Regions from separate parts of the Homo sapiens genome. Here region 1 is linked to region 2. The links come from fine-mapping of genetic effects on plasma protein levels. Region 2 holds a variant in brackets. A gene starts in the other region. All regions are shown on their forward strands.

Region 1 (2,906 bases), not on the chromosome of region 2:
TTCCATCTCCGTACACCCCCCTTCAGAGCCCAACACACAGCAAGTGCTCTAGATAGGTTTGCTCAACTCAAGGGAAGCTTCTGCCAGCAACTTTCCCAGAAATGGAATGACAAGAAGAAGCTGGATGATGGCGGGGCGGGGAGAAATGGACAGGTTGCTCATCCTGCGGGAGATGGTGAATATCCTGCAGTTGCCTAAGCGGAGATGGAAAGAAACAGCATCCATCGTTTACAGACTGTCAACTACAGTGTCCCAATTAAGCGTACGCCCCTTTCAGATGTTAACAACTGAAAACAATGCCCTGGCTCTGGACATGGGCACGCGGAACACTGCAGCCTCTAAGAAACCCAAACGGATAGGTAGGTCAACTTCTATCCACTCTGCCCATTAAATTATACCTTCATATCACGCTAATAAATTATGCAGACGGTTTACTGGGACACGCTGTGGGTCTGGCACTCTGATAAGCGCTTTACACGCCCCATTTCACTGAACCTTAAGAGGCAGGGACGGTATTAGCAGCCCCTTTTCCAACCAAGACACAAAGACTTTTTAAGTGTCTTGCCTAACGGGGCAGAGCCGGGTTCGGCACCCGTTTTGGACACCTGGGCCGTGCTCTTAACCACTAAGCTACAGACCTGGGCCGGCGACACTGAGAGGCTCCAGCCCTCGGGGACCTGAAGCAGGGACCCCCCCCCCCCCCCGCCTGCGCCCCAGCCCCGGGAATAACTTCGGCATCCCCGCGCGCGCCATGCGGGACGAGGAAAGGCGGCCGCAGCACCTGTTTGTGGCACCGGTGAGGGCTGGAGGGGATGGGGGCGCCCGGGGCCAGGCCTCAGGGCGCCCCGAGGCGAGGGAACGCAAGAGGACCCGCCTCCTCCGGGAAGGCCCCGCGGGCTAGAGAGAGGCCCGGGAGAAGGCGGAGGGGTGCGCGGGCCCGCCGAGGCCTAGGCCCCACCCGCCGCCCACCTCCCCACCGCGGCGGCGCCCGCGAGGGCCCCACCAGGCCCGGCCCGGCCCGGCCGCCTCACCTGGCTGCTGCTCCGAGCTCGTCCCCCGGCCGGCGGTCCTGGGCGGTGGCGGCGAGGAGGGGAAGGAAGAAGGAAAAAAGGGAGAGGAAGAAGGGACGAAGGGAGGGAAGAGGCGGAGTGGCCGTGGAGGAGGCGGGCGCCGCCGGGCCGGGGGGGGGAGGCGGTCAAAGGAAGCGGGAGCCGAGAGAGACGCGGCAGCCGCCGGCGCAAACGCTGAAGAGCCGCTCAGGCGCCCGCAGCCCGGCAGGAAGTGACGGGGGAGGGGCAGGCGCCCGCCCCCGGCCCCCGCCCGCCTCCAGGCCCGGCCCCGGCCCCACCCCCACCCACGGTCCGAACCACAAGTTCCGGCTGGCACTGCGGCGGAGCCTGCGCTCGCAAGGCACGCCGGGGGCCCAGCGGGAGGAGCGCCCTGTCCCGCCTGGACCGCAGCGGCCCGTCCTGAGTCCCGGGGCCTGCCGGGAGTTGTAGTTCTGGTGGGAGTTTCGCGCTGCCTGCTGGACTCGAAGCGGGTCTGGGAGAACCCAGCCTACCTTCTTTCCTCCTCCACTTCCTTTTTCCTTCCTTGCTGTCGCTTCTTCCTCTTGTCCTGCCTCTGGCCTTCCTTTCTCTCCTTCCTGCAGTTGTTTCTTCCTCCATCTGTAAATGTTCATTAAATGCTTGCCATATGCAAGGCATTGCTCCAAGAGCTAAGAATGTAGTGGTGAACTGACAAAAATCCCTGCCCTCGTGGAGCTTACATTCTTGTGTAAGTAAAATACACAATAAATAAAATTGAAAAATGTGTAGTGAGATAAAAGACAATGGCCCGGGCGCGTTGGCTCAGGCCTCTAATCCCGGCACTTTGGGAGGCCGAGGCGGGCGGATCACTAGGTCAAGAGATCGAGACCATCCTGGCTACCACGGTGAAACCCCCGTCTCTACTGAAAATACAAAAAATTAGCCGGGCGTGGTGGCGGGCGCCTGTAGGTAAACAGCTACTCGGGAGGCTGAGGCAGGAGAATCGCTTGAACCCGGGAGGCGGAGATTGCAGTGAGCTGAGATCGCGCCGCTGCACTCCAGCCTTGGCGACAAAGAGACACTGGTCTCAAAAAAAAAAAAAAAAAAAAAAAAAAAAAAAAAAAAAAAGACGAGAAGTGCCAGATTACTATTTATTTCACCCAGACCTAGATAAACTAAGTGGTTTTTAGCAGCTGTATTGTATGGGAGGTTGGAGAGAGGGTGGCCAGTAAAGAATCTTGGCCAGGCGCAGTGGCTCACGCCTGTAATCCCGGCACTTTGGGAGGCCGAGGTGGGCGGATCACCTGAGGTCAGGAGTTCGAGACCAGCCTGACTAACATGGTGAAACCCCGTCTCTACTAGCCGGATGCAGTGGTGGGCGCCTGTAATCACAGCTACTTGGGAGGCTGAGGCAGGAGAATCTCTTGAACCCGGGAGACGGAGGTTGCAGTGAGCCGAGATCACGCCATTGCACTCCAACCTGGGCAACAGAGTGAGACTCTGTCTCAAAAAAAAAAAAAAAAAAAAAAAGAATCTTGAACTTCTGCACACTCAGCGAAAATTATGCTCGCGTTGTGAGAGGTCCAAGAAACTGAGAATGAATGAAGGAACTGCAGGTGCACAGAGCTTCTCTCTCCCGCTCACTCTGGGACTGCCGCCCCACTATTTAAAAATAATTCTCTCTTTCTTAAATGTCTCTCAATCTAATAATTGCTCAATCTCTCTTGCCAACGGAATATAAATTCAAAATACGAGCTGCTGTGTCTGAAGAGGCCCCTCCAAACAAGGCTTTGGAGCCTTAGCGAAGCCTGGGAGGACACTTGCCTCCTTACATTGCTTCTTGTGAAGTGCAATGACACTGAATTTCAGAACACCAAA
Region 2 (2,906 bases):
GTAAAACTTTGGAATATTTTTGCAAACAAAAAGGGTTCTTATGTCTTCTGGAAATCTTATCAAAGTGGACAACAAGAGAAGAAACTCTCAGATGAATTTCTACCTACTAGAGAACTGATTAATAGAATTTTAAAGTAAATGCTAACACACAAACAAAAAACTAACAGGGAAGCTAAAAAAAATAGTGACTTAATACACCAAACACTCTAGCTCAATCTAGTTTATAATATAATCTAACCATGGAGGGCATTGTCATTGTTCATATCGGAGATTTTTGGGAAGGCAGGGTCAAAGAATCACTGGAACTGGATGCTCGGGTTTAATCTACCTGTCACTCTTTCATTTTTCTTTAATATGAACCCTGTTTTGGTATTTAATGGAACCAACCTTCATCAACAAATAAGTCCAAGAAGTACATTAAGAGGAGCCTGGCCCGGAGGAAAGTCATAGCTGTCTGCAATCCGTGCACTTAGAGCTAGAATCCTCTGTTCTTAACAATAAGGCAAAGTGTTCACGTAGAAGGAAAGAAAACACAGGCTACATATTATCAGGGCTGGAGTTCATACTTTCCTGGATGCTGAGCTCAGGTTTTCACTTTGTCCCCCAACATCCCACAGACAGGCACCTCATTGTGCCCCTGCAAACTCCCTGTGCAGTGTGGCAAGTGGGTGAAGGTTCACTGTGTCTGGAAAGCATCTGGAGCCTCCTGCTGACAATGTTGTCACCTGCTCTTGATTCTCCTGCTTCCGTCTCATCTCCTGCAGGGGCTAGTATTTCCAGAGGAACCTCATGACTCCCTGGGACAGGTCTCCTGGAAAAGTCCCTGTAGAACAATCAACCATTGCTGAGATCTTCTCTGAGGACATACTCAGGTACTCGGCACAACTTTGACTTCAAACACTGGGCAACGTGTCACAGGGACAAGAAATTGAAGACTTACATGTCTAGTGAAGAGAGATGCAGAGATCCTAAAGAAATTGCAACAGCCAAATGTCATCATCATAATCATTTTTATATAGTTATATAATATATATTATATTATATAATTATAAGTATTAATTTTTAAAGTAGTGTATAGTAGTGGGTAACTAGTGGGAGGAGGTTTGTGTGCAGATTGTCACCTTCCAGAGTGCACTCATCATGGGGTTGACACTGACAAGCACGCATATGGACTTGCTCAGCTGGAGAGTGACAGGCATTTTTATAACCTGTGACCCCAGTAAGGCTCTCCCACTGCAAGAATGATCAGGCGCAGGCCTCTGGCTAAAGTGCAGCCAGCAAGTGGGACCAGTGCCCAATGCTGAGAGGGCTTCCTTCAGGTGCCAAACGATGTCAAAGGAAGTGATTCTTCCTGCCTGGATCCCCTGCATGTATTCTAATTTCCTGCAGAAAGGGCCTCCTCCAGAAATACCCCCAAGAGCTTA[C/T]GCTGTATTTAATCCAACTCCAGGGCATCATACATGAAATCCCTCATGTCCAAAGTCTCCACTTCTCAAAAAAGGTTGTGCATTATGGAATTCACCAGAAGCTTCTGGCCTTTTAGTGAAATGGACCTTCCTCCCACGCTTGGAGAACTTACCCTCTGGGAAGGGGCATAGAAAACCAGGAGTCAGATGAGCTCTAAGTCAATGTGCATTTTATGGATTCCTGAAGAAAGAGTGCAAAAAGGAATGGCCCCACCCACTTTCCCTCTAACTGGCATCATTCCCAGTAACCCACTTGAAGAACCCGTGGCGCTTCAAAATAATTTATGTTTGTTATACCGGGGGACCACCAGGAAAGGAAAGAACTAGTGTGTCCATGTAGGTTCATCCCACATAACGCAGTTAGGACTCTGTTTCAGGGAGCTGATCATGGGGAGGGCTGTGTATGTGTTGGGCAGGGGTACATGGGAGCTCTCTGTTTCTACTTTTTACATCTGCTGTAACCCTAAAACTGCTTTATAATAAATTTAATATAAAAAGATAGGCAGTTTCTCAGAAATTACATTTAGTCTTAGTATTGGATCAAGCAATCTTGCCCTAAATGATTTACCCATTCAATTTTAAAACGTCTGCCCCCACAAATCCTCCATGGGAATGTTTGTTTCAGCTTGATTGATTGCTGCTTTTCCCACTCTGTTAATTTTGCTTATAGGGTGAGATTTGAAAAGAATATTTCTTATATAATTAGAATGCATATATCTTTCTATTTCTTCTTTTCCTCAATTATATAACCTATTTTCTAAACAACATTAAACCCCATAAATCCTGTCATATCCTGAAAACTGGGACAGCTGCTTCCTCCCTCAGGGTTACTGACACTCTCAGGATATGAGTTTTCACACTGTGTCTCTCCCACAGTAATACATGGCCGTGTCTTCAGATCTCAGGCTGCTCAGCTCCATGTAGGCTGTGCTCGTGGATGTGTCCCTGGTCATGGTGACTCTGCCCTGGAACTTCTCTGCGTAGCTTATGCTGCCATCACTAGGGCACATCCTTCCCATCCACTCAAGCCCTTGTGCATGGGCCTGGCGCACCTAGTGCATAGAGTAACTGGTGAAGGTAGGTGTATCCACAAGTCTTGCAGGAGACTTTCACTGATGCCCCAGCCTTCTTCATCTCATCCCCAGACTGCACCAGCTGCACCTGGGACTGGGCACCTGTGGAGAGGACACGGGAGTGGATAAAACCCCCTTTGACTGGACCCAGTCACCTTAGTCCTGGGGACTGAGAATTATCCTACCTGCAGCTACGACCACCAAAATTAGGATCCTCCAAGTCCACTCCATGGTGAGGAGCTGTGCTCTCAGGGGCTTCTCTAGAGGAGGGATGTGGTTATTGGGTGATGCTCTCAGGGCACAGAGTTATCTGTAGTGTTCACCTCAGGTGATTTGCGTATTCATGAGGACTACTACTTCATAGCATTAC

Alleles and levels. Alleles are on the strand shown, and positions count from the first base shown. The strength of an association depends on the size of the effect and on how common the allele is.
With allele C in place of T in region 2, the plasma level of the protein whose gene starts at base 1,250 in region 1 is lower (strong association).

Evidence for each region. PIP is the posterior inclusion probability: the model's chance that the variant is causal. The UK Biobank Pharma Proteomics Project read protein levels with antibody pairs (Olink). The fine-mapping took linkage between variants from a reference panel, not from the people measured, so its PIPs are less certain.
Region 1: it holds the start of STAU1, and the variant in region 2 is fine-mapped to the plasma level of the STAU1 protein (UK Biobank, PIP above 0.99).

Annotation. Positions count from the first base shown.
Region 1 is chr20:49,187,085-49,189,990 of GRCh38, forward strand. It overlaps STAU1 (staufen double-stranded RNA binding protein 1), which reads right to left and starts at 1,250. Exons shown (of 14, transcript NM_017453.4): 1 at 1,032-1,250. RefSeq lists an enhancer at 1-63 and silencers at 464-623, 854-1,523.
Region 2 is chr14:106,678,276-106,681,181 of GRCh38, forward strand. It overlaps IGH and the pseudogene IGHV1-67. Among named protein-coding and RNA genes, the nearest start is that of MIR5195, 170 kb to the right of the region's middle. The variant C/T (reference allele first, on the strand shown) is at 1,425.